Linked DNA regions of Homo sapiens. The protein of the gene in region 3 purifies or fractionates together with the protein of the main gene of each other region. This does not show direct contact. Each region holds a gene or a part of one and is shown on either strand. Other genes may lie near its edges.

Evidence for each region.
Region 1: the proteins of TCEANC2 (region 3) and SLC4A1AP purify together in Homo sapiens (affinity purification with mass spectrometry; 2 studies listed by BioGRID and IntAct, with this or other methods). This does not show direct contact.
Region 2: the proteins of TCEANC2 (region 3) and UBE2R2 purify together in Homo sapiens (affinity purification with mass spectrometry; 2 studies listed by BioGRID and IntAct, with this or other methods). This does not show direct contact.
Region 4: the proteins of TCEANC2 (region 3) and ANKRD17 purify together in Homo sapiens (affinity purification with mass spectrometry; 2 studies listed by BioGRID and IntAct, with this or other methods). This does not show direct contact.
Region 5: the proteins of TCEANC2 (region 3) and WDR70 purify together in Homo sapiens (affinity purification with mass spectrometry; 2 studies listed by BioGRID and IntAct, with this or other methods). This does not show direct contact.
Region 6: the proteins of TCEANC2 (region 3) and ARK2N purify together in Homo sapiens (affinity purification with mass spectrometry; 2 studies listed by BioGRID and IntAct, with this or other methods). This does not show direct contact.
Region 7: the proteins of TCEANC2 (region 3) and PPM1G purify together in Homo sapiens (affinity purification with mass spectrometry; one large-scale study listed by BioGRID and IntAct). This does not show direct contact.

What each region holds. Positions count from the first base shown.
Region 1 is NC_000002.12:27,670,389-27,673,888, reverse strand, and holds part of SLC4A1AP (kanadaptin), read right to left. Parts: intron 1-3,500.
Region 2 is NC_000009.12:33,911,160-33,914,659, reverse strand, and holds part of UBE2R2 (ubiquitin-conjugating enzyme E2 R2), read right to left. Parts: intron 2,697-3,500; coding exon 2,562-2,696; intron 1-2,561. UniProt on the Homo sapiens protein: E2 ubiquitin-conjugating enzyme that accepts ubiquitin from an E1 ubiquitin-activating protein, and catalyzes its covalent attachment to other proteins by an E3 ubiquitin-protein ligase complex.
Region 3 is NC_000001.11:54,088,108-54,091,607, reverse strand, and holds part of TCEANC2 (transcription elongation factor A N-terminal and central domain-containing protein 2), read right to left. Parts: intron 3,012-3,500; coding exon 2,818-3,011; intron 1-2,817.
Region 4 is NC_000004.12:73,252,299-73,255,798, forward strand, and holds part of ANKRD17 (ankyrin repeat domain-containing protein 17), read right to left. Parts: intron 1-3,500.
Region 5 is NC_000005.10:37,700,818-37,704,317, reverse strand, and holds part of WDR70 (WD repeat-containing protein 70), read right to left. Parts: intron 3,261-3,500; coding exon 3,176-3,260; intron 1,370-3,175; coding exon 1,231-1,369; intron 1-1,230.
Region 6 is NC_000018.10:46,240,034-46,243,533, forward strand, and holds part of ARK2N (protein ARK2N), read left to right. Parts: coding exon 1-154; intron 155-3,500. UniProt on the Homo sapiens protein: AMPK substrate important for exercise capacity and skeletal muscle function.
Region 7 is NC_000002.12:27,385,592-27,389,091, forward strand, and holds part of PPM1G (protein phosphatase 1G), read right to left. Parts: intron 1,568-3,500; coding exon 1,498-1,567; intron 689-1,497; coding exon 603-688; intron 289-602; coding exon 156-288; intron 1-155.

The DNA.
Region 1 (3,500 bases), on a different chromosome or scaffold from region 3:
CCTTCATCCTGAGCTATTCTTCCCAGCTTCTGCAGCCAATGACCTTTCCCCTAAGCTAGTTTGAATTGGACTTCTATTATTTGCAAGGAAAATAGTCCTTATTAATATAAGCCTAATTTGCAGGTTAAGATGGTACATTAAACACACATATCTAATTTCCCTCTTTCCCTAAATCCCAATAAACCATAGTAAAGAGATGTACCCACGCCTGGGCAACATAGCAAGACCTTGCCTTTACTAAAAATAAATCTAAAAAAAGTAGCTGGGCATGGTGGTGTGCACCTGTAGTCCCAGCTACTTAGGAGGCTGAGGCGGGAGGATCGCTTGAGCCCCGGAAGTTGATGCTGCAGTGAGCTGTGATCAGACCACTGCACTCCAATCTGGGCAGCATAGAGGAAAGAGAAGGAAGGAAGGGAGGAAGGAAAGAAGGAAGGAAGGAAGGAAGGGAGGGAGGGAGGGAGGGAGGGAGGGAGGGAGGGAGGGAGGGAAAGTAAGGGAAAGGAAAGGAAAAAAGAGAAGGGAGGGAAAGGAGGAAAAGAAAAAGAAAGAAAGAAAGAAAAGAAAGAGAGAGAGAGAGAGAGAGAGAAAGAAATTCATAAAGACCCAAATTTTAGAAAATTAGAAAGTAGACAGATGAGTAGAAACTAACTTAGCAGAATTTAAAAAGATAAATCCTAAACAGTGGGGAAAGCTGAGAGCCAAAGTGATTACACTGCAGAATCCTCAAACGGATCTGCAACTGGGGATGGATACTAAGGTTATGGAGGACTAAGTAAAAACTGGTTGAGAAATAGATCTTCCTCCCTGCCTACTCATCTCCTTTCCATCTGCAGTAGAAATCCAGAGGTTAATCTCTGGAAAGGGTAAAACAGAAAGCCTTTGGATTACGAGTTGACTAGTAAAGTTGAAGGCATGGGCACTATAATCTAAAAATAGTACTGTCCTGAAAACAGCTGAATGAGAAGCCACTCAGCCACCTTCTACCACTTAGCTCTAGGAATGCTGGCAGCCAGTCCTTTCGTTTCAGGCAGGAGATTGGAAGAGCACTCTCTGGGGAATCTCGCTCACAGACGAGGAAAACCAAAAGGATACTTAAATCAAGGGTTCCCCAACAAAAGGCCCACCCACATCATTCAATAGTACTGCTCAAAGTCAACAAACCCCACCTATATATTCCATGCAGAAACCCCACCTATATATTCCAAACTGTCAATCACCTTTTTCATCCCCAAATAAAAAAACTACAATGAAGAATTACATGACACCTAAGAAAAGCCTTTAACATGCAGAACAGAGACCACATAAAAAGAAAAATAACATGGAGAAAACAGAGAGGAGATATTTACAACCCATGAAACAAGAGGATATTATGTTTTAAAAAGGACAATTCAAAAACCAAAAATGAACTTTTAGAAATTAAAACCTTGGAGTCTCTGAGCCTTCTCTGGCATGAAAGACTGCCTGATTTTAAAAACTTTAAAAAAAGAGAAAGAAATTAAAACCTTGATGGCAAAATAGAGAAGACAGAAAGATAAAGGTGCAGAAATCTCTCAAGAAGGAAAAGACATACAGATGAAAAAAAGAAGAAAAAAAACTTAAATGGTCTGTCCAAGAGGTCCAATGTCTGAATAATAAAATTCCATAGAAAACAGAGGGACGAAACAATTAATGACATAATTGCAGAAAACTTCCTGAACAGCCAAGGTTTCTAGATCAAAAGGATCCAACAAGTACCCAGAAAAATGAAGAAAAATAGACCCACAGAAAAGTACTTCATAGTTTTAGAACCTTTAGAACAAAGGGAAACTCTTACAAGCTCTGGCAAGGCGGAAAAAAAAGATGACATACAATAGGATCAAAATCTGAACAGTTTAGGATTTCTCAAAAGCAACACTGAATGTAAAATAAGAAAAATTGTTTCCAACTTAGAATTGTATTCCCAGCCAAACTATTAATCAGGAGTGAAGCTACAATAATTATATTTTCAGAAGAGAAGGATTAATAAAATTTATTTCCTATACACTCTTTCTCTGAAATCTACTAGAGGATGTCCACCAAAACAAGAGAGTAGACCAAGAAAAGGAAAGATGTGAAATTCATTGAAGACTATCATCACCCATGCCCTCTAGTGTTGTACCAGCTTTTTAATCTGCTAAAAGTACAGAAGGATGTACTACTGTGCAAGGAAATAAACCAAGAAATATGAGAATATGAGAATCAAGAAACAGAAAAGTCAACCCTGGAGAAAGGACAAAGAAATCTTAAGGATGATAGGAAAGTTAAGTCCCAGGTGACAGTTCTGTAGCAGATCTGCAGAGCAATAAGCCCTGAAAGAAAAATAGTGCTCTTCAGAAAAAGTGTCTCCAAAACAAATCAGAACTGATAAATTACTTAATCATTAAGTTGTTTGATGTGGTGAGGCTACTGAAAGGTGTGGGAGGAATGAGCAAGAAATACAAAAAAGCCCCAAACACATGAAAAGCAAACGCAATTATTACCCTTAGGAAAAACAAAAAGAAATAAAACTGCTCAGTTATAACTAATATTTGCATAAGCATAATCACGTAAATACTAAATACTAATTTAGCAGAGTCGACAGGTAACGTCTAAAATAAGTGACTAAAAATATAACACCATACTCTTGTTCTTAGAAATACAGGTGTTTTTAGGCTGGGCGCAGTGGCTCACGCCTGTAATCCCAGCACTTTGGGAGGCCAAGGCAGGCGGATCATGAGGTCAGGAGTTCGACACCAGCCTGGCCAATATGGTAAAACCCTGTCTCTACTAAAAATACAAAAATTAGCTGGGTGTGGAGCACGCACCTATAGTCCCAGCTACTCAGGAGGCTGAGGCAGAAGAATCACTTGAACCCGAGAAGCAGAGGTTGCAGTGAGCCAAGATCATGCCACTGCACTCCAGTCTGGGTGACAGAGTGAGACTCCATCTCAAAAAAAAAAAAAAAAAAAGAAAAGAAAAGAAATACAGGTGTTTGTTGTTTTTTTTTAAATTTAATTAATTATTTATTTTTGAGACGGAGTCTTGCTCTGTCACCCAGGCTGCAGTGCAGTGGCGCGATCTCGGCTCAATGAAAACTCTGCCTCCTGGGTTCACGCCATTCTCCTGCCTCAGCCTCCCAAGTGGCCGGGACTACAGGCACCTGCCACCACACCCAACTGATTTTTTTTTTTGTATTTTTGGTAGAGACGGGGTTTCACCGTGTTAGCCAGGATGGTCTCGATCTCCTGACCTCGTGATCCGCCTGCCTTGGCCTCCCAAAGTGCTGGGATTACAGGCGTGAGCAACCGCGCCCGGCCAAGAAATACAGGTGTTTTTAAATGCCAGAATAAATAACTGAAAAAACTGAAAGCCTTTAGGGAAGAAGACTGAGGATGGGTAGGGCAAGGAACAAGTATATTTTATTATAAGCCTTTTGGTAGTTTTGAACCAGACATAAGTTACTTTGCAATAATAAAAATATAATATAAGCCTTATTAATAAAT
Region 2 (3,500 bases), on a different chromosome or scaffold from region 3:
AGATGGGATTTCACCATGTTGGCCAGGTTGGTCTCGAACTCTTGACCTCAGGTGATCCACCCGCCTCAAAATGTTGGGATTACAGGTGTGAGCTACCACACCAGGCAGCCAATTCTTTTATCAGAACTCAAATAGCATCACCTCTTCCCTCCCAAAAATATTTAAGTGGTACCCCATCACTTCTTACATTAAGAACCATACTCTTATCATGACTTCAATGTCTTTGAAGACCCTGGTGCCTCTCTTGCTTAATTTTCTAATATTTCCCACATCAGAATTTACACTCAAGCATTTGTAATCCCCTTAACATGTCATGCTGTTATACTCCTGTATTTTAGCAAACATGGGTATTTTCCCTTTTTTCACCTGAAAAAGTATTGGTTATAAGGAATTATCTCTGCTAGGAAATCTATTACATTATATATTTCTCCCAGTGTATCTTGTTTAGGCTTCTATAGGTATAATACTACATGGTCATTTGTTTTCAAATGCTAATAAAGTGAGCTCCCTAAGGAGACAGGCTATGCCTTAATGAGTACCTAACACAAAGCTGTTGCTTAGTGTCAGGTACTGTACTAGGTCATTAAGGAATAGATAGAATGAGATAAACGGACCCTTAAACAAATTAAGAAATATATAGAAGTACCTTGGGAATATGTATACCTAAGCTTTCTGATCTTTCAATCCTTAGTACACTCCCACTCCTCTAAATTTCTGTAGGATCTTAATATTTCTACTAATTATCTTCAATGTTTGGTACACATCAGTCACCTAGGTGAGATATATATACACACACAGATGCCCAAACTCTGTCCTTGTAATCCCATAAAAGACAGCTATTGTTTAGGGACAGTTTAAAAGTGATCCCAATGGGCAGAAAACTTAGAACTGCTGATTTTATATTACTCAGCAGTCACCTCATGTCCTTTCCCAGCATTGTTTTAACTTTTTTCATATCACATGGTCTCAAGCCAACTAGATTTTATTCTTATTTGTATAAATGCCAATGCTTAGTCAACTCCTATGCACAGAGGAAGCTGTAACTGTATTTGGGGTCTCTATTTTAAGAAATAAAAATGTAATATCAAGGGGGGTGGAGGCCAGGCACGGTGGCTCACACCTATAATCCCAGAGCTTTGGGAGGCTGAGGCAGGAGGATCACTTGAGGCCAAGAGTTCAAGACCAGGCTGGGCAACACAGCAAGACCTCATCTCTACAAAAATAATAATAGAAATTAGCTGGGTGTGGTGGTGCATGCCTATAGTCTTAGTTACTCAGGAGGCCCAGGTGGGAGGACTGCCTGAGCCCGGGAATTTGAAGTTACCATGTAATCACACCATTGCACTCCAGCCCAGGCAACAGAGTAAGACCATGTCTGTTTCTTTAAAAAGAGGTGGAGGAGGCTGAGTGCAGTGGCTCACGCCTGTAATTCCAGCACTTTGGGAGGCCAAGGCGGGTGGATCATGAGGTCAGGAGTTCGAGACTAGCTTGGCCAACATGGTGAAACCCTGTCACTACTAAAAATCCAAAAATTAGCTGGGCATGGTGGTAGGCGCCTATAATCCCAGCTACTCGGGAGGCTGAGGCAGGAGAATTGCTTGAACCCAGGAGATAGAGGCTGCAGTGAGCCGAGATCACACCACTGCACTCCGGCCTGGATGACAGAGTAAGACTCCATCTCAAAAAGAAAAAAAAAATTAATTAGAAACAAATAAAAAAGAGGTGGAGGGTAGGGGAAGTGTAGGGTTTGTATTTATTGCAAATTTCTTGGGTACTATTATAAGAACCTGATGTCCTAAGAGATTAAAGGTTAAGCTTTTTTCCATTTTATACAGAGGAGAAAGTAAAAGACCCCAAAAATTATCTGATAAATGGTCCCATGAGTAGATTCCAAGTCCCCTGAATCTTATTCTAGGGCTCTGTTATACCATACATTAGTGTTGCTGATAATGAGGATTTCCAAACAATCCTTGCTGCTATGGTCAGGAATGCCAATAAACTGGAAGGCTTTATTTATTCAATTTTTTTTTTTTTTTGAGATGGAGTCTCGCACTGTCGCCCAGGCTGGAGTGCAGTGGTGTGATCTCAGCTCACTGCAACATTCAACTCCCGGGTTCAAGCAATTCTCCTGCCTCAGCCTCCTGAGTAGCTGGGATGACAGGTGTGCACCACCACACCTGGCTAATTTTTGTATTTTTAGTAGAGACAGGGTTTCACCATGTTGGCCAGCCGGTCTCGAACTCCTGACCTCAGGTGATCCGCCTGCCTCAGCCTCCCAAAGTGCTGGGATTACAGGCATGAGCCACCATGCCTGGCCAGAACCTAGAAGTTCTGGTTCCTAGAAAATCAGGTCTGCTACTGCCTTATCTTCTAGTGGCTGTTCTCTCGGTAAACAGCAAAGTTCTTTAGGCTCAGGCAGAAATCTTCTCTTCCCACACTATAAATCTAATAGAGGAAAATTATCCTGGAATGGACAGGATATTTAAGTTTGATTTAAACCCTTGGTTCCAGAATATATTTTGGTTTTGTATAACTTGAGGTAATAAAAAAAAAAACCTTACCTAATAATTTCAGCATATTCTTTGTCTTTTCCTTTACTGTCTCTCCATTTCCTGAACATAACTGAAGCATCGACATTGGCTGGGGAGAAGGTGTTGGGCTCATTAAGCAGTGAGATTACACTTAATAGGATAGTCCTAGAAACAGGAAAAAAGGATCAGCTATGAATACCCATATTTACAGTATTTAAAAGTATTCTGCTTTTTAAGATAGTACAATCAGATTTCAAATTCTCCCTCCCTTAAAATTTTTCTGATACAATTAAATTTAAGACCTTGGGGGAATAGAGATATAAATTTTTTATTGATAGTTTTCATAAAAGGCATTTAAGAAAAATAAAAAAAAATTTTTTTCAGCACTAAGAAACAAGCTGCTAACTGGCAGGCAAAGCAGAGGAAATCTGTGATTCTAGTATAAGGGTAATGCACAAGTGATTCTAGTATAAGGGTAATGCACAAAGCATAAAAATGAACTTGATAGAAGGCCCTGTTTCAACTGGTCACATGTTCCAACCTACAGAAAGCAGATGTCTTAGAAGCTTTCAAATACTGTTTATTTTAAAAATTACAAATTAAATGGCATGGGGGAAAAAGCTTAAAATATTTAGTTTCAAGGCAATCTTGATGTGGGAGCTGGTAAAAATGATGCTATTCTATATAACCAGGTTTTTTTTTTTTTTTTTTTTTTTTTTTTTTTTTGAGATGGAGTTTCACTCTTGTTCCCCAGGCTGGAGTGCAATGGTGTGATCGCAACCTCCACATCCCAGGTTCAAGCGATTCTCCTGCCTGCCTCAGCCTCCCGAGTAGCTGGGATTACAGGCGCCTGCCACCATGCCCTGCTAATTTTGTATTTTTAGTAGAGATGGGGTTTCTCCATGTTGGTCAGACTGGTCTTGAACTCCTGACCTCAGGTGATCCGCCCTCCTCAACCTCCCAAAGTGC
Region 3 (3,500 bases):
AGATGCACCTTTAGGCTGTGCGTTATTATTCTTCATCTATGGCTTTCACTATTAAAGGATATGAGTGAAACAACATGGAAACATTTTTTTTCTACAAAAATGTAATGAGAAGATTTGGTATTTGCAATAACACATGCTAGGATCAAATTGTAGAGGCTTTTAAGTCACTGGGCCAATAACTTAAACCCAATGCTTTACTGCTGCCTGATTAAGTACATTTACGAAGATCTGATGTCTGATTTGAACGCACTCAACATTGGTTACTGTCAAAGACCAGATACTGAATTAGATGGTTCATTGATTTGCTCTAATATGGAAATATCTCAGATGATGATAGGTGCTAAGAATTAACCTTATATAAAAGTGCTTGTATTTATATTCTCTGACATAACAAACTGATAAACATGCTATCAAATGCTGTTTATGCAAGGAAAGCAGAGTGATTTTTTTTTTTTTTGGCTAAGGACGACAGTGAGATGCATACTTTTAATTTTTTAAATTTACTCTTTGGGAACAAAACCATTCAGCTATGCTTAATCTGATATTTTTTCCAATTATGTTGGAAAACACTAACAAACATATCACTTTTTTAACTTTGCTTTATAACACTTGAGTGCTTACCACTTGATGTGCCATTTAAAGGATAATTAATGGATAAACTAAAAGGATAATTATCGTGGAGTTTAATACAGTAGGCAAACTGCTCATTAATCCTTACAAGCATAGCTTTGTTATTATCATTTACTTAAAAAGATACCACAGGAAATTGGTATTTACCACCACATTAACTACGTATTATATATCCACACTGTATGTTTCTGCAGTAATTTTGACTTATTTCAAAACTAAACTTTATTTAAAATAAATCTTGTTGGCTAATCGATACTCTGGAAAATCAGACTTACAACTTTCATACTTTGTTCTCTCTTCCAAGGGTTTAATACTCATATTAAAGCTTCCTTTAGGAAAAGTTAAGTGAACCTCCAGCATAGCAATTCACTGAACTATCAAATAGTCATTAAAAATTATAAACATGAAAAAATAAAGATATATAGAAAAGGATATAAAAAATGACACTAACTAAAATTGATCAAGATTCAAGAGAACACAAATGTAAATAATTACATCAATATTCTGCAATGTTACTTAAATAATCAATAAAAATATCTTATGGAACATTTGGCATATAATTCACTCTATATAAATCTCAGATAATCATAACTTGCCCAACATTCATTTAAAAACCCATAATAATTTACCAAAAAAGGAAATGTGCCAATGTGTTAACAAGATTATGTCTGGGTTACATTTTTTTCCCTTTTATACATTTTTCTCATTTTCTATTAGAAGTTTGTATTTAAAAACCCAAAACTTTATTTAGTTTTTTAAGGTTTCAAATGTACTTTATTTCTTCAATAATGCCATATCTTAATGGGTACACAGTGCTTTAACTTGGCATCAACTACGAGCTGTTTTTTAAACAATTCATTATTACACCAGCTGGAATGATTACTGATCTCTCCATTCCTTTGGGGTGACCCTGCCAACAGGGGACAGGTTCCATTCTATTCTGATTTGTGTTGCTACCTATGTCCATATAGCAATACAGAAAGTGGTTCCACTAGCTAATACAGCACTACCATATTTATCATGAAAATCAGGTGTACGTTTCCGGTGGCTCTGCCTTGCCATTGTTTGCTGAATGCTTCAAACTTGGAGACGACTTGGTGCGTTTTTGACCAAGAGGAACATGGTGAAGGTGAAGACAGAACTGTGGCAATGCAGCTGCTGCTTTGGTGCAAATTCACTTCAGGTCCAAAACTTTATTTTAAAAAAAGTAAGTACTATATCACAAGTCCTTCTTTTGTAGATAAAAAATTGAGATAGAAAGGCTAAAATTTTTTTTAGAGACTGTAGTAACAGAGCTAGCATTTAAATCAGACTTCTGAATTGCTTATTTTATTAATATTAAATTGTTCTTTAAGGATACTTTAGCAGAGTTGCTCTGGGATATCCTGGGATAAGGAAGAAACATGAATATTATATGTCCTATTTTCCAGAGTATTAATCGGCTTATAAGATTTGTTGTTTGATGACAATGAATATTATTATTAATGAGCAAAAATCCTTCTTCCAGCATGTATACTTCAAACCACTAACATCATCTGAATTGTAAGCCATGAAGGTGTTAGGGAACAAGTCTATCCAATTGATTTTATGCCTTAAAGCTAAAGATATGGCTGTTGACAAAAAATGGGGGATCTGAGTCTTTTCAATAGACAGCTATTTATTTTACCATTGATATTCCATAACACAGTCCATCACAGAATTTTTACTTCAGCAAGAAGGGAAGGAATTTTAAATGGGAAGTAACCAACATCCATTAAATAACTTCTAATCAGCAGGCACTACTATTCTTTTGCATATATGATTCATTTAACCTTTTTAATACCTTAAGTGGTAGGACTTACAATCCACATTTTACAGATTAAGAAATCAAGTCTCAGAAAACGTTAAGCTATCTGCCTAAGGTGTCACAACTAGAATGTCAGGGTTTCAACCCAGATCTTGCTAGTTCAAAAGCCTGCCTCCTACAACACTGTCTCCCGGAATGCTTATAAATCCAGAATCCTTAAAGAATAACTGGTTAAAATAAAGCCACAGCATTAAGATTATGAAATCTTAATTATGAAATTATGAGGCGTTTAACCAAGAGCACCTACTAATCACATCCGACCAGGACATTACCTTTATTTTTCTTCTTTTAAAAATTAATTATTATGGGTACATAACAGTTGTATATATTTAGGGCATTACCTTTAATTCCAAGGCTTCTGAGAGTAATTTCTGAGCATTTTTCCTCAACGACTCGGTTTTGGGATCACTTCTAACTTCAATAGAAGGTCTATTTGAATGTTTTTCAGTGAAAGTTTTCCACTCAGTGTAAACTTCTCTGGCAAGAGAAGCCACTTCTGAATCTGAGTGTTTACGCATCTTGTTCACAGTGTGACCTGGAACAGGAAGAGAAAAACCAAAGGAAAGGTTGTTACATCTTCTTCTGAGAAGCGCAGGACTAGATGGACTGACGTGTGGCACTGAGAAAGTCATTCACACACCCAAGGATGTAAAGACTCTTGTGCAAAAGAAACCCATTTCACAAGGACTAAGATAATAAGATAATCACTGGGGGAGAACCAGCAGCCTAGCCAATGAATTAAGTCATAAACTAGAAGCAAAATCAATAGATTCTTAAAAAGAACAACAAAGGTAACTTCTTTAACCAAAAATTACTTTAAAAAAAATGAATTAAGCATTTATCTAGTTTTTTGGGGGAAGGGGGTACATACTGTATTTCAAGACAACAAAATAGCCCTAGTTATTATGGGAATATTATTTAGCTAATAAATGTGAAAAGACTGACAGAATGAGAACATTTTTTTGTAGCCCTGATGAAATAATTCATTCAGAGACAATCATCAGTGGATGAACTCATTCAATGA
Region 4 (3,500 bases), on a different chromosome or scaffold from region 3:
GAGAAAAGAGAGTAGGCATAAGGCTGGTTTACCAGAAAGATGTGATCAATCTTGGACCCACTATTTCACAAATAAGCCTTCTTTGTTACCACATCATCTGCTTAGTTAGAAGCAGTTTCCAAACTCTTAATAATCCAAATAAATGACCAAATTCCCCACTAAATCTGTAGTGAGAATGTTTCAAAGTAACAAGGTAGGAGGGAGAGGGTGGGGGTCACAGAACTCTTTGAGGATCTAATGAAAATCCTGCACATATGGGGCTAGAGCAGAAAGGAAGAAAAATAAAGCCTTATAAGCACCTTCAACAAAATCTTTTGTTTAATATCAGAGGATTCACAGCCTAGCCAGACCCCAAGTTAACAATCTCTATTTAAAAGAAACATTTTTTTTTTCAAATTAATAAGGAGAGATTACCTTGAAAAGTAAATATTTTGAAAGGCAAGGAATAAGTGGTAAATCGCCTCTAGAAAGGGTGGTTTTTCAGTATGAAGTTTTCATCTTGTTAACAACTTAATTCTAGGTGGTGGGAATATGGATTATTTTTCTATACTTTTCTGTATTTCTTGCTTTCTTTTTCTTTAGTGAGTTTTTCAGAAGAACTGGAAAGAAAACTTGGGGTGACCAACTTGTCTTCAATGGCCGTCCAACTGCAAAAAAGCGTCTCCCCTTATACAAGCCGAATGTGCCAATATCTGAAATATGGTACTCAACACCATACAGCATAACAGAGCATGTGAATGAGTGAGAGAATAAATGAATGAATGAGGAGGCGTAGAATCTAACAGTCCCAGGTTCAATCCCATTCTGACATTTATTAGCTATGTGACCCTGATGAGGTTGCCTAAAATCCTTCTATGCCAGTATGTTTACCTGTAAAATGAATGCTCCCTGCCAACATTTGTATACTTTGAAACTCACACATTATTCAAGATGTACATTTAACCACTTAAGCTCACTCTCACACCTCCCCAAACTTATAATATTTATTCATTGGTGTATTTTTAAATCAAGGTGACTTACAAGTTTTGTTCACCATTGCTCACGCAGTACAGCACAATACCTAGCACATAGTAGGAACTCCAAACATTTATTGAATAATGAAAGAAATATAGCAGCACCTACTTCATAGGGTTATGGCAAGAATAAAATGAGAATACGAGAAAATTGTATTAACTCATTTAACTCTCATAACAATGTTATAAGGTAGAATCTACTATCATTACCATTTATACCATTTACATGAGGAAATTGCAGTAGAGATTTAAAAACTCGGCCAAGGTCACAATGCTAGTAAATGATGGATCAAGGATTTAAATCCAAGCTCCAAAATCCATACTTTTAACCTTTACCTAGACTTCACAAACAGTAGGTACTGAATAAGTATTCATTTTTATTTACTCTTTAAAAATTTTAGGAGGCTTAAGGTACTTACCAGGCATTCATCAATTCCTATTAGTTTAACTGGCTCTCCCCTTAATACTTAGAGAAGATCATCATCACTACGAAAAGGAATTAAGAAATTGGAAAATGTTGAAATCTGAACTTCAGCTATTCAGAAGCCCTGGATCCAAGAAGGGAAGAATTTCCATTCCTTCTCTTCTTTCCCTAAATGAATGCTGAATCCTCCCTAAGTACTAGTTATTCACTAAAAATGTTTTGTTTTTTTCTAGTACTGTGCTTAAGCAGGAGAGAAGACAAGATAAATTATAATTAAGACAGACTACTGCTTCAAAGATCTTAAAATCTAGTTTACAAATACTGCTACATCAATTAAGAGATGAAACAAGCAAGCTTCTCTGGGCTAATCTAGGATTCTAAGCATTACAAAAAAGGAATTTAGATAGCACTTTTCCAATAAAAAACAAACAAGAATATTTCCAAATGAAGCTGAACACAGCCTAATTCTGAAATATTTTTTCTTTCTCCCTCATTTTCAACTCTCTTTTTCTGTCTGTAAACAGATCCTCCCTGGCCTTGCAAATCCTTTCAATACTAAGTCAGTACTAATTTATTTACCGGCTCCCTTTGTCTAAAATTTCTTCACTAGGTTTATCTCTTGATTTAGTCACAGGTTACTTACAAAAACAGATGAAATTCTGATCAACTCCTACTGTATTTATACTTTAAGCATCTTCAACAAAAATGTTTCTCCCCCTTTGAATTCTGCCTTAGAAAATACTAAGATTGCAGTGCGCAGTGTGGCTCAGACCTGTAATCTCAGCACTCTGGGAGGCTGAGGCCAGTGGATCACCTGAGGTCAGGAGTTCAAGACTACCCTGGCCAACATGGTGAAACCCTGTCTCTAATAAAAATACAAAAATTAGCCAGGCCTGGTGGCGGATGCCTGTAATTCCAGCTACTCGGGAAGCTGAGGCAGGAAAATCATTTGAACCCGGGAGGTGGAAGTTGCAGTGAGCCGAGATCAGACTGTTGCACTCCAGCCTGGGCAACAAGAGCGAAACTCCGTCTCCAAAAAAAAAAAAAGAAAGAAAAAATACTAAGATCATTCAGTCATATTCAAAAATGCATTCAATAGAATGCAATGTTATTTCTAAAATAAAGTATCAACTCTTGAAATTATAAGATTTTTTTCTTGTAATAGTCAAAAGCAATTTAATTAATTTTGTCCACTAATTTGAAAGAGCATCATGGCTTTTATGTTAGAAAATATATTTGTATTTTCCATATTGGTCAGTCACTCACTGAAAACCAAGAAAATTATGCATTTTCAATTTTAAATGTAAGATTTTGTGTCAAATAGATGGGGAGAGGGAGGCAAGTAGCTCTTGGTCTTATTTGTTTCCAGGTATACCCGAAGTTATGCAAATTATCTAAGACGTGATTACCCTATTCTGAAATACTTTAAAGTAAAATCCTATTCTCAATAACCTACTCCAATGTCTAGAAATTATATTCTTATTGTTCAACAATTAAATGAAGCTCTTATTTGAATTGATTCTCGTTTCCTTCCATTTTTCCTCTTTTGGCAGATACAGAGATTATTCAGATAGCATTTCTTTATAGCAAAGCTATGTATTTTTGTTAAATTAAAGTTATCCTTTCAGGTTAAATACCACAAAACCATAACCTTTCACATTCCTTTTTAATCTTTTGATGATTTTTACTGGAAGGATAATTTTAAAGATCATTTTATCTACTTTTTTTTATTGTGTAGCCTATAACAGAATGAATTAGAGAAAAGACAACACTGTGATTTTAGCCACAAGACTTCCTAGCTCCAGAAAGTTAGGCTTCTGCTGACATGTCAGTAAAATGGTAATTAAGAGAAAAACATTACACAACTCACCCATTTAGCTTACAGTTTTATTTGTCTTTACTTTGATCAAAAGATGAAGATGGGGCAGAGACAATCTGTACTCCTTTTTGTCTGCTCATCCCTCATCTGTATAGATTTTTTAAATGGGTACACTTTTTTTTTTTTGAGACAGAGTCTCGTTCTTGTTGCCCAGGCTGGACTGCAATGGTGCAATCTCAGCTCA
Region 5 (3,500 bases), on a different chromosome or scaffold from region 3:
CAGCTTATTTCTGGAACAACCAATTACAATAATTTTACTTTCTGAGATGAAAGTTGATAGATTCAATTGTTTTCTTTGATTCTAGTGTTTTAGTTGGCTCCTAATGCACCCAGAAAAAGCACTGTGAGTGCTGGCACATTTCAAATTACGTCATGAGATTAGAATCTATTAAACATAAGTACTCATCTAGAATTAATCTCATTTTTATTTCACTTTTCCTATAATACTCTATACCGTGGTTTTACATTCAGAACCCGCAAATTAAGACTTCATAGTAATACTAGAACATTAGAGACAGGAGTTTTTTGCTGGTAATTTAAAAACAGTTGTTCAATTGTCTGAGTCACGTAAGTGCATAATATGTCTCAACTGTTTACAAAGAGCTGAAACAACTGGAAAAACCTACATAAGAGCACTGTTTAAGATATAGGATATTACTAAAAGATTTGACAATGAGCCAAAGAAAATTTACACAGACATTAATTGGCCTGTTTCATACTCAGAAAATTACAATGATTTGCTTTACCATGTAAATAATAATATACAGCTTAAAGGAATTCAAATTTTCCTCTGGGAATTTTCATTCTTATTGTATTACATGTGGCTCCAGTCTCAGTCTCAGGACATGAACAAATGAATGAATGCATCAGTGAATGCTGGTGTTTTAGTGTTCATATAAATCTGTAAAGAAAACTAATGTGTTTTTTTAAGGTGTTGAAGTTAAATCTGAAATGCTTTAAACTTCCAAATAATTAAATAGCAATTAAGTTCAGCGCAAGCTGAGCCTGACTTTAATGACTACAACCCACACAAGCAGAGTTCTGTCAAAGTTTTCATGGTTTCGGGAACAATGTTAAACTTCGTCACTTATTAATCTTTCACTTCTGTCGACAATCCCTAGATCCTCACAAACATGCCCATTGTGGGATGCTCCTTTCTGTATCCTACATGATGATCATCTTCCTCACTCCTCAATTTGTTTGGCAGAGAGGGAAACCCAGCTGAAATTCCTACTAAAGTGTAGGTCCATAGGAAATATTGGGTTGTGGAAAGGGATAGGGTAGCTCAGCCATCCACAACATACTGATAACTCCTACGCTAGAGTGAAAAGCAGCTATCACCGTGCTCTAAGGGCCAGGGCTTATATTCTACTTAACAAACAAAACCAAAAGATGGGTAAGAGGCAAACTTTATGTATTCTCAAGGCTGAGGAGAAAAGAATATACGTACCGCATCTGTGATGTCTATTTCATACACCCTTTGGAAAGTCCTACGCTCAAAGAAAACAAGTTTGCCGCTGCCACATCCTCTTTGAATAGATGTACCAGTGACTATGAGCTTATCATCTGGACTGAAACAGCAGTCAGTCCTACAGAAAAAAAGAGTTTACGAGTATAAGCTTATGACCTCCACAACAGTCCAGCAATCATTAGTGAATTAAATAAAATATAAACATCTCTGTAACTCCTATATAGGGCTTATGAGTCAAGCACTTATATTAATTTGTTTAATCGTCACAATAATCCTATGTGGTAGTTATTATCCACATTTTACTGATGAGGGAACTGAAGAAAATAATTTAATTACACCTTGCACACGGCAACAAAAGTAAGTAGCACAGCTGGGATTCAAACTTAGGCAGTCAGACTCCAGAATCTGTGCTTTTTAACTTCTACATTGTAATTTTTTTAATGTAAAGGAAGTATAAAAAGACTCAATATAGACATTAAGAGTGTCTACGGACAGATATATATTTGACTAATGTCTAAGTAATGATTATTTTGGCCATTTTAAAAACTATTTTCACTAACACCACTACCATCACCCCCAAATAATTTGAGTTATATCAAGTTGAGCACCATGAAATGAGCCACAGGTTGCATTGCTGGAACCTAATTGATGGCTATGATTCCAAGGCTTTTGTTGTTAGCAGTCTGGCCATCTGATTGTGACTAATCTAAGACATGACCCAAAGAAGTTATATAGTTAGCATTACTTGCAGCAGGTATAATAGCTCAAAAAATTACCATCAGAAGTTATATAGTTAGCATTACTTGTAGCAGGTATAATAGCTCAAAAAATTATCATCAGCTATAAACTCATGTTTGTTCGTTTTAACATAAAATGCCATGGGCAGCAGACATGTTAGAGTTAGTACTGCATTATCATACAGCTTTCATACAGCTTCCTTCCCTTGACACTTCCATTATCTTCATGCTCTTCTCTGTTGACCATTATTTCATTTCTACCAAAATAGAACAATTTGCCTAAGCACCAACTATAGGACTTAGAGGTCAAGTTTTGCCTCAGCTGCTTCAAAAAAACCTTTAAAAGTTTCAGGTGCCAATTTAGTAGATTGGAGATAACAGCGTTCAGCTACCCACAGCAAGACAGTCTGAACAAGTGAAGGATGCTGAATTATTGATTTGAATGATTTAAAAAATGAGAAAATAAGCTGTACTATAAATGCTCAGTAATATTAAAAACTGCCTTGAAGGTATTAGAGCTCAATTTTTTTTTTTTTTTTTTTTTGAGATGGAGTCTGGCTCTGTCCCCCAGGCTGGAGTGCAGTGGCGCAATCTTGGCTCACTGTAAGCTCCGCCTCCCAGGTTCACACCATTCTCCTGCCTCAGCCTCCCGAGTAGCTGGGACTACAGGCACCCGCCACCACGGCTAATTTTTTGTATTTTTAGTAGAGACGGGGTTTCACCGTTGTTAGCCAGGATGGTCTTAATCTCCTGACCTCGTGATCTGCCCGCCTCGGCCTCCCAAAGTGCTGGGATTACAGGCATGAGCCACCATGCCTGGCTGACTAGAGCTCAAATTTTTAAAAACCACAAATTTTAAAAGGCCTACCTTGTCATTTATACAATATTAAAAGAACAACTGAATCTCTTAAAATATATTTTAATACTCCAAGACTTGTGCGTGCATACAATACACACAAACACATGAATAAATCAAATACATAATTTTAACTTCAAAAAAGTTCTTGAAGTCTGAGGAATGTGAAAAATAAAAAAAATACATATTTTTCAAAAAACAGATTTTGATCACTCTCTCAAGTCTCTTTTCCAGAAGATCTAAAAGACGTATGATATAAATTAACATTAAAGTAAAAGTACTTCTTTTCCATTCTTCTATGCTGATCAAATATTTAAAATATGCTACTTACATTGGGAACATGGTGGGAAGACCCGAGGCTGAAAAAAGTGGTTTATTAAATTGTCGGATGTCCCATAATTTTAATGAATCGTCACCTGACAGAGGAATGAGGGGAAAAAAAAGACAGAAAAGTGAATTGTGCAAAAAGAACTCGCTCCCAGTTTAGAGTCTGCTAAACTTAATGTATAACTGTAAAGAAGAAAGGGAAGGGGAAGGGGAGAAAGAGAGAAGAAAGAAAGGAAGAAAGAAGCTAGATTCACACAAGCATGTTTTACTTTTTTAACCGTTCAGAGAGCTTAAAAAGCGGTAGTCGCAAGAGCAGTTGAAAGCTATTT
Region 6 (3,500 bases), on a different chromosome or scaffold from region 3:
ATGTCTGACACCAACTCTGACCCAGAAGTGGTAAATGTGGACAATTTATTGGCGGCTGCAGTAGTTCAAGAGCACAGTAATTCTGTAGGCGGCCAGGACACAGGAGCTACCTGGAGGACCAGCGGGCTTCTAGAGGAGCTGAATGCAGAGGCAGGTTGGTCTTCCCCATCCCCCTTCTCTAACGGTGTAATATGCATGTGTCCTGGAGCTGTTTTCCTTGTAGTGGACCCTGATGAGGAGAACAGGTCATACCAGAGACATCTGGCATTGAATGATTGGTTGTGACTATCCAGGCTGCCATTTATACCTGAAACAATTTGGATAGCTTGTCATTCATCTTTCCTACTCAGAAGGAAGTAGAAATAAGAGCATTTAAGACATTAATTGTAGGTATTGGTAGGTTTCAGTAGGCATATTTCTTGGATTAAAAATGCCCAATATTTGCAAAAATGACCCAGATATGCTCATATTCTTTGGCCAGTTCTTTCTCTCACTTTAATTCTGGGTAGTGACCTTGCAGCTTGGATAGGGAATCGTTGAATCTCTCCCTGTGGGGCTGGCTGTTCATACACAGCGCTGCCGCTGTTTCTTGTGCTTCTTGCTGTGGAGTGACCCTGTTAATTCCTCGTCAGTAAGTTCTCATTTGTCTTTTCTAACTCCTTTCTTTTAGTTTCTGTCTCTGTTAGCTCAGGAAAAAAAATCTCTGTCCCTGTCTTACATTTTTTTAGTTTTGTGATTATTCTTTAAGGTGGTATTTATTCACTAAAAAATCCACTGCTGTTACCTTTGAAAAACTTTCACAATACCTCCAAGTCTTCTTCAATATTTTCTTCAAAAGTTTCTTTCAGCATTCTAATTTAAACCTTGTTTTGTTGTTGTTGTGAAAATACTAGCACTGAACATTTAAGAAGAGAAGGGGATTGAGAGACTGCTTATGCAGTGTATAATTTCTTCAGTGTTGCTGAAAGATTATAGTTTTCTAGTTAATTTATAAATGCATTGGTTTTATGAGTTAATCTAATAGTTTAATCACTACCTAAAGTTATTTTTATGAAAAATGAGTTTTACAAAAAAATGAGTTATAGTTTAGAACTTTTTATATTGAGACAGAACTCCATTGATTGTTGTTGTCTTAAATTATTCCTTTCATAATCTTTGATTGGAATTACAGAAAAATCACTTGTTTGTTGACCTGATTGATTTACTGTAGCTAATTTTGGAACTGAACCTGAATTTAGTTTTGATTTTTTTTGACTGGTAACTGCTGCCTGTTTGTCCTTGGACCAGTTGTTTCTCCTCTGGACTTCAGTTTTTATATGTATAAATCCTTGTTTTGCCCAACAAGTGTCTTTTAAGGATTTATTAATATGTATTAATACAAATACTTTGAAAAGAAGTAATAATGCTTCTGGGCACAGTGGCTCACGTCTGTAAGCCCAGCACTTTGGGAGGCCGACGTGGGAGGATCACTTGAGGTCAGGAGTTCAAGACCAGCCTGATCAGCATGGTGAAACCCCGTCTCTATTAACAATACAAAAATTAGCTGGGCGTGATGGGTGTGGTGGTGGGCGTGGTGGTGGGCGCCTGTAATCTCAGCTGTGGAATTGCTTGAACCTGGGAGGCAGAGGTTGCAGTGAGCTAAGATTGTGCCACTGCACTCCAGCCTGGGTGACAAAACTAGACTGTATCCCCCCAAAAAAGAAAAAAGAAGTAATAATGCTTTATATCAGTGGAAAGTAGTTTGGCCACATTTTGTACAATATGTGTTTCTAAGTTATTTATTTATTTATTTATTTATTTGAGATGGAGTTTCGCTCTTGTTGCCCAAGCCAGAGTGCAATGGCGCGATCTCAGCTCACTGCAACCTCCGCCTCCTGGGTTCAAGCGATTCTCCTGCCTCAGGCTCCTGAGTAGCTGGGATTACAGGCGCGCACCACCACGCCTGGCTAATTTTTTGTAGAAATGGGGTTTTACCATGTTAGCCAGGCTGCTCTGGAACTCCTGACCTCAGATGATCCGCCTGCCTTGGCCTCCCAAAGTGCTGGGATTACAGGCGTGAACCACTGCACCCAGCCTTGTAATTTGTATATTAGATGGTTTATCTTTGTTTTTCATCCTTTGGCAATTAAGTCATCCATTCCACTTCAGTTTTATTTCTCTGTTTTCTGAGTCTTGCCGTTAAATATAGACCATTTTATGGTAAAGTTTTGGGGTAAAAAATGAATGATTACCAACGTTTTGCTCTTCATATGCAGAATTCTTAATATTAGATTGAACCGTATGGAATTGTTAATATTTGACTTTTTGACCTACAAAAAATCAGCCATTTCTTATGACTTGACCGAATAATGCAAAGTTTGCGGTTTTAAAATATCATTAAAGTTTAGCTTTTGGGATGGCATTCACATTTTCAGATTCAAGTAATTGTTAGCCTATTTAAAAATCACTCTTAAGAAACTACAACCATTCTTTTTAAGAAATAAAACGTGGTAAAAGTATGTGAGGAGGAAAACAACTGTGGCTTCAGATGTTTTCCTTCCCTTTGCCCTTCCCATGCCAAAGCTATCCTAAATTGGATATTTAATGTGTGGTATTCCTGTGTATTTCTTTATATATTTGTACTACATTTGTTATATATCTAAATAAGCATGTTTTTAAAACTAATTGGTATCACATTGAAGGTAATCATTTGAAATGTGCTTTTTTAGTTAAACATTTTATGAGTTTTGTTGTTGTTATGTGTGGCTCTAGTTCATTCATTTTCCACTGCTATTTAGTATTCCACTATATGAATATATCACAATTTACCCATTCTCTTGTTGGACATTTAGGGTGCTATTTTAAGTGATACTGCTCTTAACATTTCTTTATGTGTTTTTTGGTATATGTATATGATAATTTCTCTAGGATATAATTAATATATAGAGAGAGCATTTGTGCATATTGGACTATAAATTTTGTGTAGGTTTCTGTATATCATAGGATGCAGTCACCACTGCTCAGCAGATCCCCATGACATTTTGTTATGAAGCTTATTGGCTCTTTCAAAGGCATTTTTTTTTCTTAAATCTGACAATACTGGTATGTGGGTAATAAATAAAAATAATACTGTAGTCTTGATGTGATTATCATAGTGGAACTCATCTTGTGAAGATATCTGAATGTGCTTACAGTGTCTCAATAAAATATTAATAGAATTTATGCTTAGGAGCCAGTTAATAGTTTTGAGGCTTGGACTATTAGTCAGATGGTCATTCTTATGGTGTGAGTGTAAGTTAAAATTTTAATGGTTAATCTGGGTCCTGTCTTTCCCTTTCACAACAAAATAGCAAGCCTAGTTATTGAGCAGACTATTCAGGGGTTCACTTTAATCAACAGCAGCATCTCAACCCAGGTCCACAGCCCCATCCCATTTAGGATCACATAGGTACGCACTAAAGATAGAGTAGGTTGCCTTTTTCCAAGCAATTAGATGATTATCTTGCATCCAAAATATATAT
Region 7 (3,500 bases), on a different chromosome or scaffold from region 3:
TAACCACATACAATGCAGGAGAACATCATAGGTTTCTTTAACATAAGGACTCCCCAGGTCCCTAGAAAGCCATCCTATCTTAGAATTGATAAGTAATATTAAAGAATATTTCTTAAAATGCTGATTTCCCCTCAAACAAGGGATGCCACACTCACCATCATCTTCATCAGCTACTTTTTCTTTTTCATCTTCATCCTCAGTGGGTCGCCCTGCAATCTGTGCCAGCTCTTTAATGACTTCTTCAGTGGTCAATTTGGCGTCAATAGCCAAGAAGGCATCTTCTAAAGCCTGAATATAAGCAAAATAGTCTAAGACTAGTACAAAATGAACTCCCTATATACAATCCTGAGCACAAGGATGGAATACAAATTAAGAGTGTGAGCCACCACACTAAGAGACACTCACAGATAAAAACAGCTCAGAGGCCTAGGAATAATAAGGCAAGTCTAAAAGGCGGCCAATAAGCTCGTTTTAGGAACAGAATTCTTCAAGAGTAAATAAGCAGCAGCAGCTAGAGGACAAAAAGAAAGGAAAAGCCCAAGGGCTAGAGAACAAGGGAAAAGCCTACACAAGTGAGGAATGGGCGGTGTAAGCAGACAGACCTTCTGTAGCTTGCCTTCCTTGTAGGCCTTCTGATCTTTGATGATATCAGGAAGATATTTGGCACAGTACAAGGCAACTTCCTCCCCTAGAAGGAAAGGAAGGAAGGTCACCTGGAGCACTGCTCCCCACACATAGAAAGTGATACAATATTTATATGCCATACTGGAGTGAACCCCAAGGGTTGAGGGGATAAATATCTTAGCACCCCTGAACCCTATTTGAAGGACACTGTTTGGGGAAGTTCTGATCCAAAAAAATGGATTTCACCATCAATTCTCTCGGGTATAAATATCTCGTCTTTTCTCACCTGTATACTTAGTTCTCCAGTGAAAAAAAGATAAAGAATCAGCTCAACTGGGTACACTTTTTTGTTTTTTAAGACAAGAGTCTTGCTCTGTTGCCCAGGCTGGAGTGCAGTGGCATGGTCTTGGCTCACTGCAACCTCCACCTCCCAGGTTCAAGCGATTCTCCTGCCTCAGCCTTCCGAGCAGCTGGGACCACAGGCGCCCACCACTACGCCCAGCTAATTTTTGTATTTTTAGTAGAGATGGGGTTTCACCATATTGGTCAGGCTGGTCTCGAACTCCTGACCTCGTGATCCACTGTGCCGGGATTACAGGTGTGACCTACCGCGTGCCCAGCCTAAAAATTTTAAAAAATAAAAATAAAAAAAGATAGAGGCTCTTTGGATTAAAACAAGTCCTGGTGAGATTATAAACCAATACAGTACCTACTGGGAAAAAAGAATGACAGAATACAGAAAAACAGCACCACGCAGGAAATGATAATGAGGGCCAGACCCTGGAAAGTAAATGAACAAAGGGACCTGTTCTTGCCCTGGAACGTCTGGAATTGGGGTCCTAGAATGTTACCAATATGATCTGTTAAAGTTACCTCCATGTCCATCGTAGACAGAAAACATGGCTGTCTCACTGTCCAGCTCAGGAATACAGTTGTGAGCATCCTAGGAAAAGAAGAGCATAATCGGCATGTCTCAAGGTCGAAGAATATTCCTCAGGTCATAGGGATCAATGTCACCCCTTACTAACCTTTCCCTGGCTGGCCTATATGGCCTAGAAATAAGAAAGGAAGAAGGAATGATAAAATAAATACAGAGGAAGAAAAGAGGAGGGAGGCAAAGGAGGAAAGGGGAAGGAGAAAAGGAAGAAAGAATCAGGTTACTACCTCTATAATAACCTCAACCTAGGAGATATCTCAGTCCAGATGGCAGAATATTTGGCTACTGGAAATAAACCTGACCCTTTTGGATCTGTGGAAGCTACGGGAAAACCAGAATAAAGGATTTTTTCTTCTTTTTTTTTTTGAGACAGAGTCTCGCCCTGTCACCCAAGCTGGAGTGCAGTGGCGCGATCTTGGCTCACTGCAACCTCCGCCTCGTGGGTTCAAGCGATTCTCCTGCCTCCGCCTGCTGAATAGCTGAGATTACAGGCATGTGCCACCATGCCCGGCTAACTTTTGTATTTTTAGTAGAGATGGGGTTTCACCATGTTGGTCAGGCTGGTCTCGAACTCCTGACCTTGTGATCTGCCTGCCTCGGCCTCCCAAAGTGTTGGCCAGGCTGTACACAGCTTTATTTATTTATTTATTTATTATTATTTTTTGAGACGGAGTCTCGCTCTGTCGCCCAGCCTGGAGGGCAGTGGTGCGATCTCTGCTCACTGCAAGCTTCGCCTCCCAGGTTCACGCCATTCTCCTGCCTCAGCCTCCCAAGTAGCTGGGACTACAGGCACCCACCACCACACCCGGCTAATTTTTTGTATTTTTAGTAGAGACGGGGTTTCACCTTGTTAGCCAGAATGGTCTCGATCTCCTGATCTCGGGATCCACCCGCCTCAGTCTCCCAAAGTGCTGGGATTACATAAGTGAGCCACCGCGCCCGGCCTACAGCATTATTTATAATAAAAAACAGTTGAGGCCAGGCGTGGTGGCTCACACCTGTAATCCCAGCACTTTGGGAGGCTAAGGCCGGCAGATCATGAAGTCAAGAGATCAATACCATCCTGGCCAACATGGTGAAACCCCGTCTCTACTAAAAATACAAAAATTAGCCAGGCGTGGTGGTGTGCGCCCGTAGTCCCAGCTACTCGGAAGGGTGAGGCAGGAGAATCACTTGAACCCCGGAGGTGGAAGTTGCAGTGAGCCAAGATCACACCACTGCGCTCCAGCCTGGGTGACAGAGTCAGACTCCGTCTCTAAATAAATAAATAAATAAAATAAAAAACAGTTGTAACCATCTAAATTTCCAGGAATAGATTACAAATGGTACGTAACTCCAGTGGAAATGTAGCTGTTAAAAGCAAATATATGTTAATTTGGAAATGAGTTCACAATATCTTAAGTGGTTAAAAGCAAAAAGTTAAAAAAGTATCTACATGTGAGGACGGCCACAGTGGCTCACTCCTGTAATCCCAGCACTTTGGGAGGCCCAGGCAGGCGGATCATGAGGTCAGGAGATCGAGACCATCCTGGCTAACATGGTGAAACCCCGTCTCTACTAAAAATACAAAAAATTAGCTGGAGGTGATGGTGGGCGCCTGTAGTCCCAGCTACTTGGGAGGCTGAGGCAGGAGAATGGCGTGAACCCAGGAGGCAGAGCCTGCAGTGAGCCGAGATTGCGCCACTGCACTCCAGCCAGGGCGACAGAGCAAGACTCCGTCTCAAAAAAAAAAAAAAAAAATTATCTACATGTATATGTGAGTCTGGAAGATCACATAGCAAACAACCACAGAGGGTGAGATTTGGGTAATAATTTCTACTTTTCGACATTCATTTTTAAATTTTTGTACAATAAACCACATTGTTCCATTCTGAATAAGGACAACAAACACACCTAAGAACTGGCCTCAAGTTGCCATTCTACCATATACTGCATGATC